Linked DNA regions of Homo sapiens. The protein of the gene in region 1 purifies or fractionates together with the protein of each later gene. This does not show direct contact. Each region holds a gene or a part of one and is shown in the gene's direction. Other genes may lie near its edges.

Region 1 (3,903 bases):
ACCTGCTTGTCTGGTCCCCCTGCCCATTTTTTTTCTTTTGTGGGATGTGTGGCCCAGTGCTCTTAACAGAACACCTTTCTCTGGCTTCAGTTTTCATTAATTCAACAAGTAGCTTTAGTTGGGCCTGGCCTTATGCTAGATCCTGGGAAGTCGGCATGTTTCAGGGGGAGGCAGATGACTGAACAGGTACATCCTGTCACAGAGCCGAGGCTCACATGCTGTTCCAGGGTGACTGCGGGATGCTGTGGAAGCGGCGTGGAGCAGGCCTCTAACACAGATGCGGGGGGGAGGCTCCCTGGAGGAAGTGGTGTCTGTGTGGGGGCCTGAAGGACCCAGGAGGAGCTAGTCAGACTCGAAGAGCTCCGGGAAGGAGGAGGGAGCAGCCCAGCCCCGGCTGAGGGCAGTCAGGTGTGACGCCCACGCGGGAGGTAGCAAGAGATGAGGTGAGAGAGGCCTGAGAGCTTTGGTGAGAGTGAGGGGCCTTGCCAGAGTGGGAATCACTCGGCACCCGGCTTGATGGGGCTCACCTGCCTTTCCATGCCAAACCGTGGTTTTCCCTTTGCACACCAGTTTTGTGGGTCCTTCTCCAGAGAGTGCTGCCTTATAGTAACCCCATCTGTGAGGTATTTCCCGGATAAGGAAACTGGGGCTCGGTGGGGTGAGATCCTTGGTCTAGGCCACAGAGATTTCAGTTTGGGGAGGTCAAATGGGAATGCAAGCTTTTCTGACTTTGGATCACACTGTAACCCTAACTCTGCCCCTTTCTGTTTTTCCAAAGAGCTATTTCAAATCCGTTCATTGGTCTTTTCCTTTCTTTCCTTTAAACCTGTGGCCAGTTCAGGAGACGATTTGAATGTGGATGTTCAAGTCCCCGTCCCAGTCCTTGGCCAGTGTTTCTAGACTCTTCTGTTTCCTAGTTATTCCATCCTCTGGGGTTGGACCAGGGCTGCTAGCTCCCTTGGGAGGGTGTGCTTCTGGGGCCAGAGGGGGAGGCACTGAGGGTTCTCTTTAAGTGGGGACCCTCCCCAAGGCTTTCCCAAGCCACAGGAAAGCCCTAGCTCATCATCTTGTTGGGCCTTGGGCCGCTCCCCCTTCTCCTCTGGCCCCAGTGGCCCTTTCTATCAAATTGGTGTCCCTGGTTCCTCCTTGCTGGGTGGGTGATGCCGGATTCTGCAGCCGGCACACACCGTAGGTCCTGCCCAGAGGTGGTGGGGTTGCCATTACTGTCACTGCATCCCTGGAATTGGGTGTTCCCAGCCCCCTTTCAGATTTGGCTGAGAGCTGACAGAGGCTTGGGGGACATTAGAGGGAGATGGTCTTGCTGTCCTCCGGACTCTGGGCCCTTTAAGGAGCTGGGTGCTGGCCAGCCTGCTGCTGGTAGCAGGCTCTTTCCCTTCCTAGGGTACCGGCCAGGGGGCCAGGCGTTGGAGCTTCTGCTGAGCATTGGGACAGCTCAGGCAGCTGTTTCTGGAGGCCCCCTGAGGCATCTGTGCCCATGACCTCCATTTCTGGGTGCTCGTGGGTCAGCGCAGGTTGGGAAGGGGTGACAGATGAAGCATGGGCCCACCGGTTCCCTGGCGGCAGAGCTGTGCTTGGGCGGATACGTGCAGCAGTGGGGATGGCTCTGTGGGAGCCGCAGTTAGTGCCTGTCCAAGCAGGGGAAGGAAGGGGCTGGCAGGCCCTTGAGGGGTGGCTGGTGTTGAAGGCCCTAAAACACCACAGCTAAGTCAGAAACCAGAGGCAATAGTGCAGAGCTGGTGGAGGGAGAGCGGCAGAGGTAGTTTTCGTTTTTAATGGCTTCCTTTCTCATTTACAATTTCCCCTTCTTCCGTTTGCAGCCAGACTCATGGTTTTCAAACGGTAGCTAAAAACTAGTGGTAGTCACTTCCGCTTTCTTGAAGTTGCTAAAAGTTGCAAAGAATGGGGGTGGCGGGGTGCATGGCGCCTGCCGTAGTATCCGAATGGTCTGAGGAAAAGTACTTGAGTCACTTAGGCAAATGGGTAGAGTCTTTCTCCTGCTCCTCTGTGTTTAGCACCATCACCTTTGGGGTAGTGACCGGTCCCCTACCTGTCCTGCCAGAAAGCATCTGGACGTGGCCTCAGGGTTGGACCGGAAGAGACTTGCACCTGCTGAGCTCCTGCTGTGTCACGGCCACCTGCTTTAGCTCAATGCCTTTTCACAGCAGCCCGCCCTGGTGGGCTGTGTCTCCTTTTCACGGATGAGGAAATGAGACTCAGAGAAATCAAGCGCCTGCCCAGGTTCACCAGGAGAGTGCGAGTGAAACCCACTCTCCTGCTCCATTCGCAGGGATTCTAGCAGGCTTCATTAGGTTGGGAGAGGGGACTGAGAGGGCTTCAGGCCATAGTGCATTCAGAGGTTGTGGTGGGGGAAAGTTTTTTTCTCTTTTTTTCTGTTCTTCCATATTTGCATCTTCATTCTGTTTAGAGCCTGATAATTGAGGTCTGTAGAGTGTCGACCACTCAATTGCATTTGAGCCTTTCAGTCTATTCTGATTTTCAGAGGAGCCACTTGAGATGGAGAGTTCAGGGCGCTGCCTGGGTTCTCAGGGCCGAAGTTCTTGGATGCCGTGCACCAGCGAGCACCCTCCCGTCTCATTCTGGCTGCCCCTGCCCCAGTTGTCTGGGGAGCTCGGTTTGGAGGGGAAGCCTGACCTTTTCCCCGAAGCAGATGGTTAGTCTGTACCAGGGGTAGGGGGTTTGGGGGCCGAGGGCCATGCCTGTGCCCTTTAATCAGGTATCTTAGAAGTGAACGGTGGGCCTCAGTGTGAGAATTTCTGCCTGTTGTTTAGAGACCAGGGCACACTGGAAGCCTCTTGCTAGCCATGTGGCTCCACCCCTCTGGGCCCCTCTTCCACATGAGACTCTGTCGGAATAATAAGAATTCTTTACTTGGTCTTGATGTGGAGCCGAGACAAGTGTCTCTGCAAGTGCGGGTCCATGGATTTTCTACAGATGCTGGCTTGGTGCTGCTCCTATCCCGTCCCCACTGTGGAGGGGCTCACTTAGCTTAGAGCTGTTGGTGGTGAGGGATGGGGAAGGGGTAACCTGGGTGAGTGCCCCAGGGCTGAGCCTTGGCAGCTTCAGCTCTGCCAGGCTGGCCGGCATCTCATCAGCTCTGCGGACGCTGGGACATAGTGCAAGGCCTGAGCCTGGCCCTGGCTCTGTCCCTGCCATGGCCGATGGCCTGAGGCAGGTTTTTTTTTTTCCCCCAACAGTTTTTATTGAGATATTCTGTACAGTTCATCCATTTAGAGTGTACAGCCAGGCGCAGTGGCTCACGCCTGTAAGCCCAGCACTTTGGGAGGCCGAGGCAGGCAGATCACTTGAGGTCAGGCATTCAAGACCAGCCTGGCCAACGTGGTGAAACCCCGTCTGTACTAAAAAAATGCAAAAATTAGGCCGGGCGTGGTGATTCATGCCTGTAATCCCAGTGCTTTGGGAGGCCCAGGCAGGCGGATCACAAGGTCAGTAGTTCGAGACCAGCCTGGCCAATATGGTGAAACCCCGTCTTTACTAAAAAAACACACACAAAAATTAGCTGGGTGTGGTGGCGCACTCCTGTAATCCCAGGTACTCAGGCTGAGGTGGGAGAATTGCTTAAAACCGGGAGGCGGAGATTGCAGTGAGCCGAGATCGCGCCGCTGCACTCCAGCCTGGGTGACAGAGCGAAACTCTGTCTCAAAAAAAAAAAAAAAAAAAATCAGCCAAGAATGGTGGTGCGCACCTGTAGTCCCCACTACTCGGGAGGCTGAGGCAGGAGATATGCTTGAACCCAGGAGCTGGAGGTTGCGGTGAGCCGAGATCGCGCCACTGCACTCCAGGCTGGGTGACAGAGAGAGACTCTGTCTCAAGAAAAAAAATAATAAATAAAGGGTACAATTC
Region 2 (3,903 bases), on another chromosome or scaffold:
AAAATAATATGGAAGACCAAGGTTGGGTGAGTAACTTACTTTTTCACTGTAAGGCCTTATATTAGTTAGGGTATGATTTAACTGCTATACTAAAAGACCACAAAAATCTTCTTCCTTAAAAAAGGAAGTAGATTGGCCGGGCGCGGTGGCTCACGCCTGTAATCCCAGCACTTTGGGAGGCCGAGGTGGGCGGATCACGAGGTCAGGAGATTGAGACCATCCTGGCTAACACGGTGAAACCCCGTCTCTACTAAAAAATACAAAAAAAAAATTAGTCGGGGGTGGTGGCGGGTGCCTGTAGTCCCAGCTACTCAGGAGAGTGAGGTAGGAGAATGGCATGAACCTGGGAGGCGGAGCTTGCAGTGAGCTGAGATCACGCCACTGCACTCCAGCCTGGGCAACAGAGGGAGACTCCATCTCAAAAAAAAAAAAAAAAAAAGAAGTAGATTGGCTGGATGCAGTGGCTCACGCCTTTAATCCCAGAAGGATTTGGGAGACAGGAGGATCTCTTGAGGTCAGGAGTTCGAGACCAGTCTGGGCAACAAAACATACATAGCAAGACCCTGTCTCTACAAAAAATTAAAAAAAAAAAAATAGCTAGGCATGATGGTACACACCTGTAGTCCTGGCTACTCGGGAGGCTGAGGTGGGCGGATTGTTTGAGCCCAGGAGTTCAAGGCTGTAATACACTATAATTGCACCACTGCACTCCAGTCTGGGTAACAACAACAACAAAAAAAACCCCAACAAGGTAGAATATTATTGCTGTCAACATAACAGTTCAAAGTGGGAAGTGCAGAGTAGTGGTGCAGCTCTGCCATCTTTAACATGAAGTTTTCATCTCTATGTCATGTCTGAAGTGGCTACTCCAGCTCCCACTGTCACACCTGTATCACACCTAGCAAGGAGGAGTAAAGGAATAGAGTTTATACCCTTTTTTCTTTTTCTTTCTTTCTTTTTTTTTTTTTTTTTTTTGAGACAGGGTCTTGCTCTGTCGCCCAGGGTGGAGTGCAGTGGCGTGGCGTGATCTCGACTCACTGCAACCTCCATCTCCCACGTTCAAGTGATTCTCCTGCCTCAGCCTCCCAAGGAGCTGGGATTACAGGCATCCACCACCACTCCTGGCTAATTTTTGTATTTTTAGTAGAGATAGGGTTTCACCATGTTGGCCAGGCTGGTCTCGAACTCCTGGCCTCAAGTGATCCACCTGCCATGCCCAGCCTATACCCATTTCTTTTAAGAGCAGATCTGGAAGATGCTCATATCCATTGGCCAGAATGTAGTCATGTAGCAATATAGTCACGTGCAAGTCAGGCTGGAAAACATAGTTGTTAACTGGGCAGCCATGTGTGCCCAGATGAAACTTCTATGCATTTTCTCATTAAAGGAAGATGGAAAGAATGAACACTGTTGGACAACCTGCAACCCCTTCCACAAATCTTTTTTTTTTTTTTTTGAGACAGAGTCTTGCTGTGTCGCCCAGGCTGGAGTGCAGTGGTGTGATCTCGGCCTCACTGCAACCTCTGCCTCCTGGGTTCAAGCGATTCTTGTGCCTCAGCCTCCTGAGTAGCTGGGACTACAGGCGCGTGCCACCACACCTGGCTAATTTTTGTATTTTAAGTAGAGACAGGGTTTTGCCATGTTAGCCAGGCTGGTCTTGAACTCCTGGCCTCAAGCGATCCACCTGCCTTGGCCTCCCAAAGTGCTGGGATTACAGGTGTGAGCCACTACACCTGACCAACAGAAAGCTTTTTCTTTTTTATAAATGCCAAAATAACAAAATTAAGTCTGCCACACTGCCCCACCCTACCCCTCTCCCCTAGGGCTGTCCTCTACTGGCGCTCTTGCATACCCCTACGTCCTCTCATGTCCTCACTTGTTCCTTATCTGCAGTGGAGTTGCAGCAGAAGGACCGGGCACTGGTGGAGCTGCTGCGAGAGAAGGTCGGGCTGTTTGCTGAGATGACCCATTTCCAGGCCGAAGAGGATGGTGGCAGTGGGATGGCCCTGCCCACCCTGCCCAGGGGCCTTTTCCGCTCTGAGTCCCTTGAGTCCCCTCGTGGCGAGCGGCTGCTGCAGGATGCCATCCGTGAGGGTGAGGGAGCTCCCAGGGAAGAGTCCAGGCTCAAGCACTCACCGTCACAGAATGTGGACATGTGACTAGACATGGACAAACACAGACAAGTGGGATGCCAACCCTATAAACCATAAACGGCCCTGAGTGCCTCTTCTGGGCCAGTTCCTGGGAAAGGCAGGGGAGGAGGTGTGGTCCTTGCTGCTGCTCCATATCGTCCATGCTGCATGGACTCTGCTGCCTCGTAGGCATTTACTGCCCTTTACCTCATCAGTGGTTGTGTGAGTGAAACCCCACTGCCAGTGCAGGGGGCATTCCCCCAGATGCCCAAGTGTCCCACATGTGGGGGTGAATGGCATTCCCCTCAGGGTCCTGTGTCATTCCTGTTCTCACCTCTTCCTCTTTCCCCACAGTGGAGGGTCTGAAAGACCTGCTGGTGGGGCCAGGAGTGGAACTGCTCTTGACACCCCGAGAGCCAGCCCTGCCCTTGGAACCAGACAGCGGTGGTAACACGAGTCCTGGGGTCACTGCCAGTGAGTACCAGGGCAGGGGACCAAGGTAGTAGGTGGGAGGGGCCAAAGTTAGTAGAGTGGTACCAGGGATCAAGTGGTATCAGGGCCCCAGGGAAGTGAGCTCAGCCATCCTTTTCTCCTTCTCAACAGATGGTGAGGCCAGAACCTTCAATGGCTCCATTGAACTCTGCAGAGCTGACTCAGACTCTAGCCAGAGGGTAGGTCCTCAAGAGGTTCTGGGACTTGGCAAGAGGGTGGGAGAGGGACAGCCAGCCTCTGGATCCTCAACACAAAGCTGTCAGGGGCAGGCACCCAGGATTTGTGTGCCTGCTGACTCCCCATTCTTGCCCATTTCTGCAGGATCGAAATGGAAATCAGCTGAGATCACCGCAAGAGGTGAGATGGGAATTGATGGTATAGGAGACTGAAGGGAGGATGTTCTTAGTCTGAGTAGTTAGAGCCCAGTTTGGAGTGGGGTGGGGAAAGCGTCTACATTCAAGTATGTCTCCGGATCCTACTGTCCCCACACCCACCCTTGTTCAACTTTTGGGCAGTTCTCCCATCCTAAAGCTGGGGCCCTGTTCCCACCCTGTCTGTCCTCAGGAGGCGTTACAGCGATTGGTCAATCTCTATGGACTTCTACATGGCCTACAGGTCAGTAGGACAAGGGCTTGAATGGGGAAGGGGAGGAGCCAGGCTAGAGATGCCTGTTTAGGTGGGGCATGGTCATCCCAACAGGCCTTTCTAAATACCCTCCCAATCCAAGCTCTCCAGGAGCGATGATCTGGGCCTTGGAGGGTGAAGGCGAGGGGTAGAAGAGCACAGGGGTTCTGATAAACCCTTCTGCCTGCATTCTACTCCCAGGCAGCTGTGGCCCAGCAGGACACTCTGATGGAAGCCCGGTTCCCTGAGGGCCCTGAGCGGCGGGAGAAGCTGTGCCGAGCCAACTCTCGGGATGGGGAGGCTGGCAGGGCTGGGGCTGCCCCTGTGGCCCCTGAAAAGCAGGCCACGGAACTGGCATTACTGCAGCGGCAACATGCGCTGCTGCAGGAGGAGCTACGGCGCTGCCGGCGGCTAGGTGAAGAACGGGCAACCGAAGCTGGCAGCCTGGAGGCCCGGCTCCGGGAGAGTGAGCAGGCCCGGGCACTGCTGGAGCGTGAGGCCGAAGAGGCTCGAAGGCAGCTGGCCGCCCTGGGCCAGACCGAGCCACTCCCAGCTGAGGCCCCCTGGGCCCGCAGACCTGTGGATCCTCGGCGGCGCAGCCTCCCCGCAGGCGATGCCCTGTACTTGAGTTTCAACCCCCCACAGGTAAGGTGGC

Evidence for each region.
Region 2: the proteins of PPP6R1 (region 1) and ARHGEF2 purify together in Homo sapiens (affinity purification with western blotting; 2 studies listed by BioGRID and IntAct, with this or other methods). This does not show direct contact.

Annotation. Positions count from the first base shown.
Region 1 is NC_000019.10:55,252,215-55,256,117, reverse strand, and holds part of PPP6R1 (serine/threonine-protein phosphatase 6 regulatory subunit 1), read left to right. Parts: intron 1-344; exon of another isoform or gene 345-443; intron 444-2,526; exon of another isoform or gene 2,527-2,689; coding exon of another isoform or gene 2,690-2,692; intron 2,693-3,903. UniProt on the Homo sapiens protein: Regulatory subunit of protein phosphatase 6 (PP6). May function as a scaffolding PP6 subunit. Involved in the PP6-mediated dephosphorylation of NFKBIE opposing its degradation in response to TNF-alpha.
Region 2 is NC_000001.11:155,950,819-155,954,721, reverse strand, and holds part of ARHGEF2 (rho guanine nucleotide exchange factor 2), read left to right. Parts: intron 1-1,893; coding exon 1,894-2,094; intron 2,095-2,486; coding exon 2,487-2,606; intron 2,607-2,735; coding exon 2,736-2,803; intron 2,804-2,945; coding exon 2,946-2,981; intron 2,982-3,188; coding exon 3,189-3,239; intron 3,240-3,385; exon of another isoform or gene 3,386-3,449; coding exon 3,450-3,893; intron 3,894-3,903. UniProt on the Homo sapiens protein: Activates Rho-GTPases by promoting the exchange of GDP for GTP.